Linked DNA regions of Homo sapiens: regions 1 and 2 are each linked to region 3. Evidence: fine-mapped expression QTL. A gene starts in region 3. Each other region holds a variant in brackets. All regions are shown on one strand. Distances are from middle to middle.

Region 1 (4,000 bases), 180 kb before region 3:
GCAGCCAGCCTGTCCCTGTAGGAAGAGAGCTGCCTGCCCCAGCGCGCTGTGAAGGACACCCTCCATGTGGGCTTTGTCTGGCCAGCCATCCCTCATTTTAGGCTCCACTTCTACGATCCGGCTCAATCAGAGCCCACAAAGTGGAAAACACACAGCATTTCACGAGGAAGAGGGTCTGCCCTGTCCGAGGAGCCAGTGGCAGTAGAGATTTCCCTAATGCAGGCACGGGCGCTAGGGGATGCTAGGAGCATCCCCGCACACATCACAGTCAGGATGGGGCTGGGGAGTGGGATGGAGTTGCAGTGGGGCCCCCACAGTGGGAGAAGCAGCTCCCTCTCACTGTGAGATCGGAAGAGATTGGGGGTGATGATTTCTACCTTCTGGGGACTGCGGTGCGTGGCTTCCATATCCAAGTCCCTGGCTTCCCAGGAGGGGCCCTGGTGGGGCTGCAGCCATGGTGACCAGAGGATACCTTGAAGCTGAAAGGTAAGACACTCCAGGGACTCACGGAGATCTTTGAGGTTGGGATCCCGCCCAGGGTGCGGGTGAGGCTGCCCCGCATCCTGGCCTTGGTGTGTAGCCACAGCAGGAGGGGGCCTCTGCAACCCTCCAAGGAGGTCACCCTTACCTCTTTGAGGTAATGAGAGAATGAGGGCCATCACTTCTCTTGCAGGCCACACAGACCTGGGTTTGCATGTATCTTGGCATGGCCACCTACCAGCTGGGTTATGCTGGTGACTTCCCTGAGCCTCAGTTTCCACGTTGACACTAACAATCCCTCAAGGTGCTAACCAGGCTGTTGGAAGGGGTAAGTGGTCTGGTGCCTGAATAGGCTCCCTGGAGGTTTGGAGGTGGGAGCAGCATGGATGTTCTAGTTACAGAGCCCTGGTCCAACACCTTCTCCTAACAGGTACCAAAGCCAAGGCCTGGCCAAGGGTGGGAATGCCTGTATCCCACGACCTTCAGGCAAGTGGCCGGCTTTGCCTACATGGCTCCTCTGCACACAGTGGGGGCTGAACCCTTGGTGTCTGAGAGCCACGCAAACAGCCTTTCCAGAACTACCCCGGTTCCTGCCAGGCGAGGAGTGGCTGTCAGGAAGGGTCCCCAGGGGAAACACAAGCCTCTGGGCTAGCCTGGGCTACAAGCACAGTCTGTCGGGGCAGCACTGCACTCCTGCCCTCCCTGCCCCTGATTCAACAGCAGGAGCTTGGGGAGGGGCCCTCATGGCAGGCTAACACCAGCAGGTTTGGCAGAACCCAGCCCAGGGCACAGCTTCCGTCACTCAGGGCTGACTCTGCCGCCATGTTCCCCGGATGCTGGAGCTGCAGAAAGGAATCGTGACCAACCCCAGGGGGTTGTGCTTCTCATAAAACAATTCATTAGGCACTTAAACTTGGAGCTGTTCTGATGGCTTCGTAAACACAGATGAGCCTCTGATGTCTGATAAAAGACTGTGCAAGACGGCAGCCAGCTGAGACGCTCATTATCTCGGAAAAGCCAAAACTGCTTATTCAAGACAAAGCAGTTTTGGTCTCGGGTAGGGAGGCAGTGCCTGGGAAGCCTCCGGCAGTGGCTTCTGGGAGGGACAGGGAAATACAAACGCATTATTATGTCATTCAGTGCTTCACATTTGTGTGTGTCCCTGGTAGAAGTACAGCAATCTGGTCTGTGGGCTGTAAGGAGGACAGTGGGCCTGAGAGGGTGGATGTAGGAAAACAGTGCAGGTGACAATGGGGCCAACACGCAGGGTGGCCCAGCAGCCTCTCAGCATCCTTGGCAT[A/G]TGGGGCCAACTGCCCCCCACCCCCCAGCACTGTGGGATCTGGGATGGACAAGGTGCACACACCTGCTGAGCTGAGGCGGGTGGGCACCTGCAGGCTGAGTTTCCCAGCAGTCGGGAAGGGGGGCACACCTCGCCCAGCCTCAGGCCCCAGGGTGGGATTCCCAAGGCTGCATTTGGGTGCTCCAGGCCTGAGCCTGAGCATATCTGGGCAGGTGTGGGTGGTGGGGTGGCCCTCCTGCCCCACAATCATGCTGCCAACAGGCCAGTGAAGCCGGCTTGGGGCAGGTCTTGGATGCCCAGGTTTTAGCCTGGGCTCTTGGCCTGCGGTGAGCTCCAGCCTCTATCTTCCCACCCTGCCCTTGCATTTCTTGCGGGGCCTGGAGCTTGGTCCCAGCTCCCAGTCCGGCCCTGGTCTAACCTCCTAGTTTGGGGGCTGGGTCCCCCAGCTGGAGGTCACCCAGGCACCAGCACTGCCCACTGTCCCCAGCCAGCACGATGACTCTCCTGAACCCCCTTCTCTGGACCTCACTTCTTCCTCTGCGGCCTCCATTTCTGTACAGCTCCTCTGCTCTGGTCTCCTTACTCCCAGCAGGCCACCCCAAGCTCCTACAACTGCACCCCTGGCCCAGATGTGCCGCCCTGGGGGACTGTCCTGGGAGGAGGCTGTTGCAGTCAGACCTGTGTCTGGAGGGTGGAGGCCTGGAGGAGCACGCACACTTCTGGGGAACACTCCCCAGACAGAAAGAGGGAAGCAGGGCCAAGCACTATCCTCCTACCACCATCGAGACACCCTCCTGGCTCCCAGTCCTAGCCGTGTGGCTTCCAGAGCCAGGGTGAGCGGCTGACTCCTGTGGCGGGGCTGCTTAGTTTACAACTGCGGTTACCTGCTTTGTCTACCATCAGGTTGGCACGACCTCGGCAGGCTCAGCTCTGAGGCCCTTCTAGCTCAGGGAGCCCTCGACTGCAGCCCCCCACCACACCCTCCCCTTGTTGTGCACAGCGTCTGCTCCCACTGCATCTGGGGAGTGAACCCAGGGAGGAGGAGTAGCAGCCACCGAGGGCCAGTGTGGCAGCTGTGTCCCTACTGTGTGGGCAGAACTGACCTGCTGGGCTAGCTACTTAACTTGGGGCCCCGACCTTCCTTATCGAGGCATGAAGTAAATAACTGCAGACTGCACCAGAGTCCACAACCAACTCGTTTCCTCCAGACAATTAGGAAGAATGTCCTTGCCCAACGACGGCCGAGTGAAGGAGATGATTTAAGAACTCGGAAGCTAGCTGGGGGGCGCTGGCTTTGGGAAACACCGTGGAACCGCAGGAAATGGAACGCTGACCCTTCAAGCTGACCCTGGTCACCCACCGAGGGACCCCGGGGCTGGAGCCAGGGAGCCCCGTGCCAGGGCGGTGGGGGTGGGTACTCACGTTGATCATAGCATTGGATGTGATGCGGAAGAGGGTGGCCCGCTCATTCACCACCTTCAGCTTCTCCCCACTCTCAGATGGGATCTTGAGGCCGTCCAGCTCTGTCAGGGAGCGCTGGAGTGCAGCGCCGTGCTTGGCGATGAGGTCATTGCACGTGCTGAGGTCATCTAACTTCAGGGAAAGATTCTTCAGGGTGTGGTGCAGCTCGCTCTTGTCGGCTGGGGTGGTAGCCTCGTCGTCGTCCCCAGAGTCATCTGTGGAAGAAAATAGAGTTGTTACGGTCATTACGAACAGACGTGGTACCAAGAGGCCTGCACAGCCAGGCCGAGCAGGGCAGGGTGGATAGCGCCATTCAAAAAACATCAGTCCCCGAGATGGTGCCCGTTCCTGTTCCTGGCCGGGGTGAGGTGCCTGCCCCATCCTGGCCCAGCCTTCCCAGGGTGGGGTGGGCAAGGGCCCACCTGAGTCAGTGGGAAGGACTGTAAAGAGAGCCCAGATTGAATGGCAGGGCCGGGACTGGGCTTTGGAGGCGGCAGGCCTACAGGCACCCACCTGCATGCAGGGCGCCAGCTCCCTACATTGTGGTGTGCAGGGAAGGATGGGCTCTGCTGGGTGGAGAGGTGGAGACTGCTCTCTGGGCACAGAGGCCCCCAGAATGGAGCCTGGGCTCCTTTCTCAGCATCGCAGGCCTACCCCAAGCCAATCACCCCCGTCCAGTCAACCTCACTTTGCTCTCTGCTCATGCCCATCCCCCAGCCACACCAATCTGTCCCCTGTTCCCTGCAAAGGCCTGAGCGC
Region 2 (4,000 bases), 23 kb before region 3:
GTCTTGAACTCCTGGCCTCAAGCTATCCTGGCTCTGGCTCAGTGACTTTTTTTTTTTTTCTTTTTTTTTTGAGACAGAGTCTCACTTTGTTGCCCAGGATAGAGTGCAGTGGTGCCATCTCAGCTCACTGCAACCTCTGCCTCCTTGGTTCAAGCAATTCTCATGCCACAGCCTTCCAAGTAGCTGGGATTACCGGGGTGCGCCACCACTCCCGGCTTATTTTGTATCTTTGGTAGAGATGGGATTTTGCCATGTTGGCCAGGCTGGTCTCAAACTCCTGGCCTTAAGTGATCCACTCACCTTGGCCTCCCAAAGTGCTGGGATTACAGGTGTGAGCCACTGTGCCTGGCCTTGGTGACTTTTAAGTTCCTTACCTAGAGATTCTTCTGCCACCACACCAGGCAACTTTTCCAGGGCCCTGGAAAATCTAATCAGCTTCCCATTCATGGCACATCTCTGCAGTGTGTGGCTGGCTATCAGTTACTGAACACTGATTTACTGTGGGCTGGGACTTCTGGGAGGGAACAGACAAAACATGAGCTACTGGTCCTGCCACACAGCTGCACATGCACACATAATGACACACACTGCCACCGAGCACAAACTAAGGCTGAAAGAGAAGGGGAGTGAGGAGGGCAGCAGCCTGAAGCCAGGGATAATGTTGAGAGGACTGCGAGGCACTCAGGTAAGTACAGGCTGGAGAGAAGGCACAGCGGGAATCAGCTCAAGGTTAAGAACACTCTAATCCCGTCTCTAGAAGGCAAAGGCTCAGTAAGCTGACAGATAAATTCAAACTCAGAAGAACTGCAGGATTCAAAAGAAGAAAATTGCTTCCATGCCTGTATCTAGCAAAATAATTTTATTTTCTGAAAATAAAAAATTCAAAGAAGGTGCCTTTCTTGTCACAGTGCATGAACAACTCAGCAAAAAGTCCCCACTCAGTCTGCCCGCAAGGCTCCCAAGTCTGAGAACCAGAACACACCATCAGCCCTGTTCCCATGCTGCCCCAGGGCTCAGGAGCAAGGGCCCAGGCCATTTCTGCAACAAATCTGTTAGTACTGGCAGGGGGAAAAAAAAGGGGGAGACAAGCACCCGGATGTTGTCACTGCAACTCCGAAGTTGTAAAGTTGCAACTCCAACAGCAGTGCCCAGGGCCTGTGGCCCCAGGGGCAGGAAGGCCAGTGAACACCTGAGGCCCAGCTAAAGCATCCCCCATTCTTTCCCTACCAGGTCAGTCACCAGATTCCTGGCCTCCTGGACTCAGATCTCCAAGCCATTAAGTCAACAGACATTTCCCGAGTCCTTTGATGTGCCAAGCCCAGTGCCAAGCATACAGGTCATCTTTTATATCTCATCTCTCCTCCTCCTCCTTCCAGATGGTTTCCCATCAAATTTTCAGAAAGGTAAGGATAGAAAGAACCCCAGACATCACCTAGCCTAGTCCTCTCACTCTATAGATAAAGAGGCTAAAGGATGTGATCGTTAGAAGGGAGGTTAGAGGCTGTGACAGACTGAAGCATTTCTCCTGTTTCTTTCTGCCATCCCTGAACTACAATTTTAAGTGCACAACTTTTGCCACTGGACTTTGTAGGATCCTCTAAAATGGGGAATGGATATCTTCCCACCCTACTGATATTGGACAGGGCCACATGCCTTGATTCAGCCAATGGAATGTGGAATGGAGTGAGGGTGTGCAGGCTCAAGCTGGGATGCTGTGACTCTCGATTACCCTCCTGTACTTCTGCCATCACAACAGGAAGACACACCTCCTAGCTTACTCCCAAGTGCCACTGCCTGAAGGAGACCTGGCCTGGTCATCTGCGGACCCTCAAGCAAGAGAAAACCACTGCTGCTTTAACCTCAGAGTTTAAATCACCACTGGGCAATGTGTTTTGAAGTTGCTTGATCCAGGAGGACAGGTGAGCTGAGGACTCGATTCTAACTCCCGCCCACCCTCGCCTGTCAGAATGCACACACAACCCATTGTCACTGAGGTGTCAGAGTAGAGCAAGGGATCAGCAGGAGATGATGATGCTGGAGAGGCAGAGATGAGGCCAGTCCTGAGGGGGAGTCATGTTGGCACATATTTGAGATGAATAGAAGATGAATAAGGAGACTCTAAGTGTCAAAATAAGAGTCTCAACCAGCAATCTTTGTCATCAACCTAAGGATCTGCTTTTGACTTCCATCTGCTTTCTTACAGGCTATGGCAATCATTCTTTTTGTAAGTACAGGGCTTTATAGCTAGTGAGCAAAGCCTAGAGATGTGAGAAGGGACTCTAGAGGTCCACTTTCCTGGATGTAACTTCCCATCTGGTCCTGGATGGCACAGCTGCAGCTGGACAGTAAAACATGTGTCATTTCCCCTTAGTGTAGG[C/T]GTTTTTCAAAAGGCCTTGATTTTTTCCCTGTGTCAAATGATCTTTGGCAAGGATGCCAAGATGACTCAGTGGGGGAAAGGACAGTCTCTTCAACAAATGATGTTGAAAAAACTGGATGTCCTTGTGCAAAAGAATGAAGTTAGACCCTTATCTCACACCATATGCAAAAATTAACTCAAAATGGATTAAAGACCCAGCAAGGTGCAGTGGCTCTTGCCTATAATCCCAGCTACTTGGGAGGCTGAGGTAGGAGAATCACTTGAGGCCAGGAGTTCAAGATCAGCCTGAGCAACATAGCGAGACCCTGTCTCTACACACACACACACACACACACACACACACACACACACACACAAAAACAGTAAAATTAAAACAAAATAGATTTAAATGCCTAAATGTAACATCTGTACAACTCCTAGAGAAAACCATAGGCATAAAGTTTCATGACATTGGATTTGGCAATGATTTCTTGGATATGACACCAAAAGCACAGGCAACAAAAGCAAAAACAGACAAATGGGACTCCATCGAAGGACACAACTTAAGTTCCTTGAAGGACACAATCAACAAAGTAAAAAGGAAACTTATGGAATAGGAGAAAATATTTGCTAATCATATATCTGACAGTGGGTTAATGTCTAGAATGTAAGAAGAACTTCTACAACTCAACAACAAAAATCAAATAAATGATTAAAAAATGAGCAAAGGGGCTAGGCATGGTGGCTCACACCTGTAATCCCAGCATTTTGGGAAGCTGAGGCGGGCAGATCACTTGAGGTCAGGAGTTCGAGACCAGCCTGGCCAACATGGTGAAATCCCATCTCTACAAAAATACAAAAAATTAGCCAGGCGTGGTGGTGGGCACCTGTAATCCCAGCTACTCAGAAGGCTGAGGCAGGAGAATTGCTTGAACCTGGGAGGCGGAGGTTGCAGTGAGCCGAGATTGAGCCATTGCACTCCAGCCCGGGCAACCATGTGAGACTCTGTCTCAAAAAAACAAAAAACAAAACAAAACAAAAAAACAAACAAACAAAAAAAGGATTTGAACAGACATTTCTCTAAAGATGTTATACAAACGATCAACAAGCATATGAAAAGATGCTCAGCCAGGTGTGGTGGCTTATGCCTGTAGTCCCAGCACTTTGGGAGGCTGAAACAGGCAGATCACCTGAGGTCAGGAGTTCAAGACCAGCCTGGCCAACATGGCAAAACCCCATCTCTACTAAAAGTACAAAAATTAGCTGGGTGTGGTGGCAGGCACCTGTAATCACAGCTACTCAGGAGGCTGAGGCAGAAGAATCACTTGAACCCAGGAGGTGGAGGTTGCAGTGAGCCGAGACCATGCCATTGCACTCCAGCCTGGGCGACAAGAGCGAGATTCTGTCTCAAAAAAAAAAAAAAGAAAGAAAGAAAGAAAGAAAAGATGCTTGTGGTTGGGCATGGTGGCACAGGCCTGTAATCCCGATACTTCGGGAGGCTGAGGTGGGATACTTTGGGAGGCTGAGGTGGGAGGATCACTTGAGCCCAGGAATTCGAGACCAGCTTGGATAACACTGCAAGATCCTGTGTTAAAAAAAAAAAAAAAAAAAGGTTAGGTGTGGTGGCTCATGCTTATAATCCCA
Region 3 (4,210 bases):
CCACTAAAACCAGGCATTTCTGCCACTGTGGGAGACTATACTTATAAACATTACCTTTAACTCTTCAGTTTAGTAGTACCTGGTAAATACAGGTAACACAGACATGCTGAACTCAAAGGTGAGTGGGTATCAGGACACATTTGGGACAGGTCCAGATGTTGGTGTTCAGAATCCCTCTCTACCGTCTACTGGGCCAGTGCCTTTGGATAATGGGCTCTGTGTCTCCCCATCAAACCTCAGAACTCCTCATTTGTAAGACAGGAGAGGCCGGTGTGGTGGCTCATGCCTGTAATCCTAACACTTTGGGAGGCCGAGGCAGGCGAATCACCTGAGGTCAGGAGTTCGAAACCAGCCTGGGCAACATGGTGAAACCCCATCTCTACTAAAAATACAAAAAAAAAATTAGCCGGGCATGGTGACGGGCGCCTGTAATCCCAACTACTCAGGAGGCTGAGGCAGAAGAATTGCTTGAACCTGGGGGGCGGAGGTTGCAGTGAGCCAAGATTGCACCACTGCACTCCAGCCTGGGCGACAGAGCAATACTCCGTCTCAAAAACAAAAACAACAAAAAACAAAACCCTGTAGTGGGTGACTTGAAGGGATACTGTTGGCTGAATGAAGTGAGTGAAGTGACCTGAATTTCAGCAACAGCAAGTCAAGGTCCTTTTGTGTGCAGCAATGAAACAGTGCTTCTCAGAGTGTGGTCCTGGACCAGCATCACCAGCCACGCCTGGGAAGTTATTAGAAAATCCGAATCTCAGGCCCTTCCCCTAGGCCCACTGTAACAGAAATTCATTGGGGAGGCCCAGCACTTTGTGTTCCAACAAGCTCTTCAGGGAATGCTGATGCACACTCAGGTTTGAGAACCACTGGCATAGACTGATCTGAGTTCTCAAGGCTTAAACCAACCATCCCCAGGAAGCAGACCCAGGGAAGAGCCAGTAAGAAAGCAAAGGGAGGCTTCAGTAACCTCCTTTCAACCAGTTTCAGTGGGAAGACAGTGTTAGCTCTCTCACCACTGGACTTTAATTTTGAATCCCGTGCTGGGTCTGGAATAAGAAAGGAGGGCAGCAAAACACTTCCTAGCTCTCCGCAAAATGCCAAGATGGACTCCTGAAGGCCAAGAACCGTGTCCAATACATCTGTGAGTCTGTGGTGCCCAGCCCAAGGCCTGGCAACCAGAGGCATCAGGAAAGGTGGGAGTAACTGCCCCAGGCGGGAAGAATAAGCAGCCCTTCCTAAGAGTGTGGGTCCTAAGGACTGAACAAGGTGACTCTCTCCCTCAATCCCAAACACACAATGATGTTAGCTCCCGAACCAGAAAGGGCAAGGACTTTGAGGGGCTGACTCTAGCTAGCTGCCCCAAGCCCCACAACTGCCAAGCAGAAGGGAACTGAGGCCCCAGATCACTCCCTTACTCCACCTCCCCACTTGCCCAAAAACCCAAGCTTGCCAGAGGTCATGTCCGCAGATCACATTCACCCTTGCCAGAGGTCAGGGCCCCCGGCCCTTGGCGGCGGGCCAGAAGCGTGACTTGGCCTGCTGGAATGCATGCCCCTAAACATCTCTAGACTAGTGGCAGTGTCCGCCAACCATGGAGGCCCTCCATCACCATCCCTGCAGCATCACCACCCTCCAACCCCCATGTCCCACCCTGGCGCTTCCATACCTGTAGTAAGAGAGCAAACCATTGCCCAGCACGAACCAGCGGCGCTGGTAGCCCTTCAGATAGTTGGTCCACTTGAGAAGCCAGCCCTCGAAGCTGTCCAGAGGCAGTAAGGCCAGTGGGGCACTGGAGGTCGTGCCAGTCCCCGACATTGGAACCCCAAGAGGAGTCTTCGCCTGTCCTGGTCGCAGAAGAGGCAGGGGCTTTAACGCTGGCAGCGATCCTGACTCGGGTCTGAGAAAGGTCGCGCTCCCCACCGCCCGGGAGAGCGGCTCCGATGCGGCCTTAGTGAAGGGCCCAGCCCCTACACCTGAGCTTGACTCTGACCCCGGCCGCGACCCCTGCAGCAGTTCCGATGGCTGCCCAGCCCCTGGCTCCGGCTCAGACGTCGTCTCGGACACAGGTTCCGATCTTGGCACTGCCTCCGAAACTGCCTCCGACACCTGTTCTGACAGCGGTCCCCGCTCCGGTTCGGGCACGGGCTGGGGCTGGGGCTTGGGCTCCGGCCCGGAGCCGGACGTGGAAGCGCTCATGCCCGGCGCCGCCGTGTGGCACGACAGGCAGGGGACAACCGTGAACAGCGACGAGAGCCCGCGGGAGCGGCCGCCACAGCCGCCGCCTCGGCTCGGAGCCGCCGCTTTCCCCATAGAGCCGGCCGACCCGCGCGCGGCCGAGCGGCCAGTGGGGGCGGGGGGCAGGCCGGGGGCGGGGCCGGGGGCGCAGTCACGTGCGCGCGGCGCGAGGCGGGGGCGCGCGCGGGTTCCTCCGCGGTCCCGTGCGCTCCGTGCCCGTCAGCGCCCGCCGGCTGTTGTGCTCTCGGCCAGCCTCGGGCCATGTTTGGACCCTGGGTCCTTCCTAGGTCCGGCCGGTGGAAGGAGCTCTGACAACACCTGTGGGCGGAAGAGCTTGGTGGTCGGTCAACTCCGAAGGGGATGGCGCGCTTCAGGCCACGGTCTCTGCTTCGGCCCAGCCGTGCCAGGCGCTGGAGGAACAATGATGAATGCGGAGCCCGCCAGCTCCCAGCGCAGCTCTGCCCACGGGACCCTGCGCCGACGCCCCCTCCCCCAACCCAGGCTGGGGTGGGTTCGCTCTCCGCCACCCAGGAAAGCCGGGTGGGAAGCAGGTACGGCACCCAGAGGCCACGAAATGCGCACGAAGCACAGGGGCGCTAAAGGCTAAAGACGACGCCCCGCCCCCCATGGCAGCCATTACCTGTCTGTGGGTCGCTCCTGCGGCCGCCAGAAGCGGTGGCCCCAAGTGGCCGCCTCACCGCCTCCACCTCCTGAGCCAGCTGGCCTACGGTTCATGCCAAGGCGCTTCGCTGCCAGTGACGACATCGTTCGGGTTCTCTAAACAAATAGGGGAAGACTTTTTGTAAACCAAGCGTTTTAGTACAAGAAACATCTCAAAGTGGGATTCTGAACTTGGACCTCCCGGGATCCCTGGGTAGGCTGGCAGTCTGTGAGGCTTCCGCAGAGGTTTACCTGTCTGTGCATTTTTCCAGAGTAGGTCCATAACAAAGGAGGCTGTGACCCCAGAATGGTTAAAACATCAGCGAATTTTTTTTTCCGCTTTTTTTTTTTTTCCTTTTTGAGACTGAGTCTCACTCGGTAGCCCAGGCTGGAATGCAGTGGCGTGATCTTGGTTCACTGCAGCCTCCGCTTCCCAGGTTCAAGCGATTCTCCTGCCTTGGCCTCCCTAGTAGCTGGAATTCCACGGCCCGCACCATGCCCAGCTAAATTTTGTATTTTTAGTAGAAACGGGGTTTCACCATGTTGGTCAGGCTGGTCTTGAACTCCTGACCTCAGGCCAGGATCCTCCCGCCTCGGCCTCCCAAAGTGCTAGGATTACAGGCGTGAGCCACTGTGCCCAGCCATCAGTGATTTTTTTTTTTTCTTAAGAATCTATCCAAATGACGAAAGTTGATGGTTACTACAAATAATCAGAAATACAAATGGAAAGACTGAACATTGGGTTTCTGTCCAGACTTTTCAAGCTTAGACCTCTCTGCAGACTCCTCTTAGCTCACCATCACGTCTTACTCTCCCCTTACCCACCTATCCATTCCTGATCTTTGCTTGTGACAAGATAACCTGTGTAGGGACTGCTTCCTACGTGAAGTGGTCCCCAGAAGGAAGCAGATTGGAAGGTCCTAGAAATAGGAGGTGCAGACATGCACTGAGCAGGAGCCGCTGGCATCTTTGCTGGTGACTTTGAGACCCCTTCCTCAGGCACTTGTCTTTGAATGGTGGTCTTACCTGCAATTTTGCTGTGAGCTCTGGAGTGCAGAGAGCCCCCCATCTTGGTCTATCTCATATGTATGACGGTGACCCTCAAACTTCAGCATGGTGAGTCCCCCCAAGGAAAAGTGATTGCCTCTGGGGTGTAGTGGGGGACAGAACTGGACAACTGAGAAATGAGGTGGAATGCTTGCTTTTCACTCACACTTTGAACCTTTTGTATGTTTTACTGTGTATGTTTCACTGTGTGTATGTTTCACCGATTCAAAATAATGATGATAATTGTTAAAATCACCCCAGGGAG

Evidence for each region. PIP is the estimated chance that this variant, and not a neighbour inherited with it, causes the effect.
Region 1: its variant is fine-mapped to the expression of OSBP2 in whole blood (INTERVAL, PIP above 0.99).
Region 2: its variant is fine-mapped to the expression of OSBP2 in fibroblasts (GTEx, PIP above 0.99). The same link has a PIP of 0.9 or more in adrenal gland, neural progenitor cells and spleen.

The regions. Positions count from the first base shown.
Region 1 is chr22:30,869,885-30,873,884 of GRCh38, reverse strand. It overlaps OSBP2 (oxysterol binding protein 2), which reads right to left. Exons shown (of 14, transcript NM_030758.4): 3 at 3,203-3,456. LOC105372994 (a long non-coding RNA gene) reads left to right here. Exons shown (of 3, transcript XR_007068062.1): 2 at 674-808; 3 at 911-995. Among named protein-coding and RNA genes, the nearest start is that of MORC2-AS1, 50 kb to the left of the region's middle. RefSeq lists an enhancer at 659-1,159. The variant A/G (reference allele first, on the strand shown) is at 1,781.
Region 2 is chr22:30,715,824-30,719,823 of GRCh38, reverse strand. The region is part of intron 1 of OSBP2 (oxysterol binding protein 2); the gene reads right to left. Among named protein-coding and RNA genes, the nearest start is that of MIR3200, 14 kb to the left of the region's middle. RefSeq lists an enhancer at 1,777-2,976. The variant C/T (reference allele first, on the strand shown) is at 2,378.
Region 3 is chr22:30,693,013-30,697,222 of GRCh38, reverse strand. OSBP2 (oxysterol binding protein 2) reads right to left here and starts at 2,349. Exons shown (of 14, transcript NM_030758.4): 1 at 1,670-2,349. The coding sequence starts at 2,313. RefSeq lists silencers at 2,163-2,212, 2,597-2,676.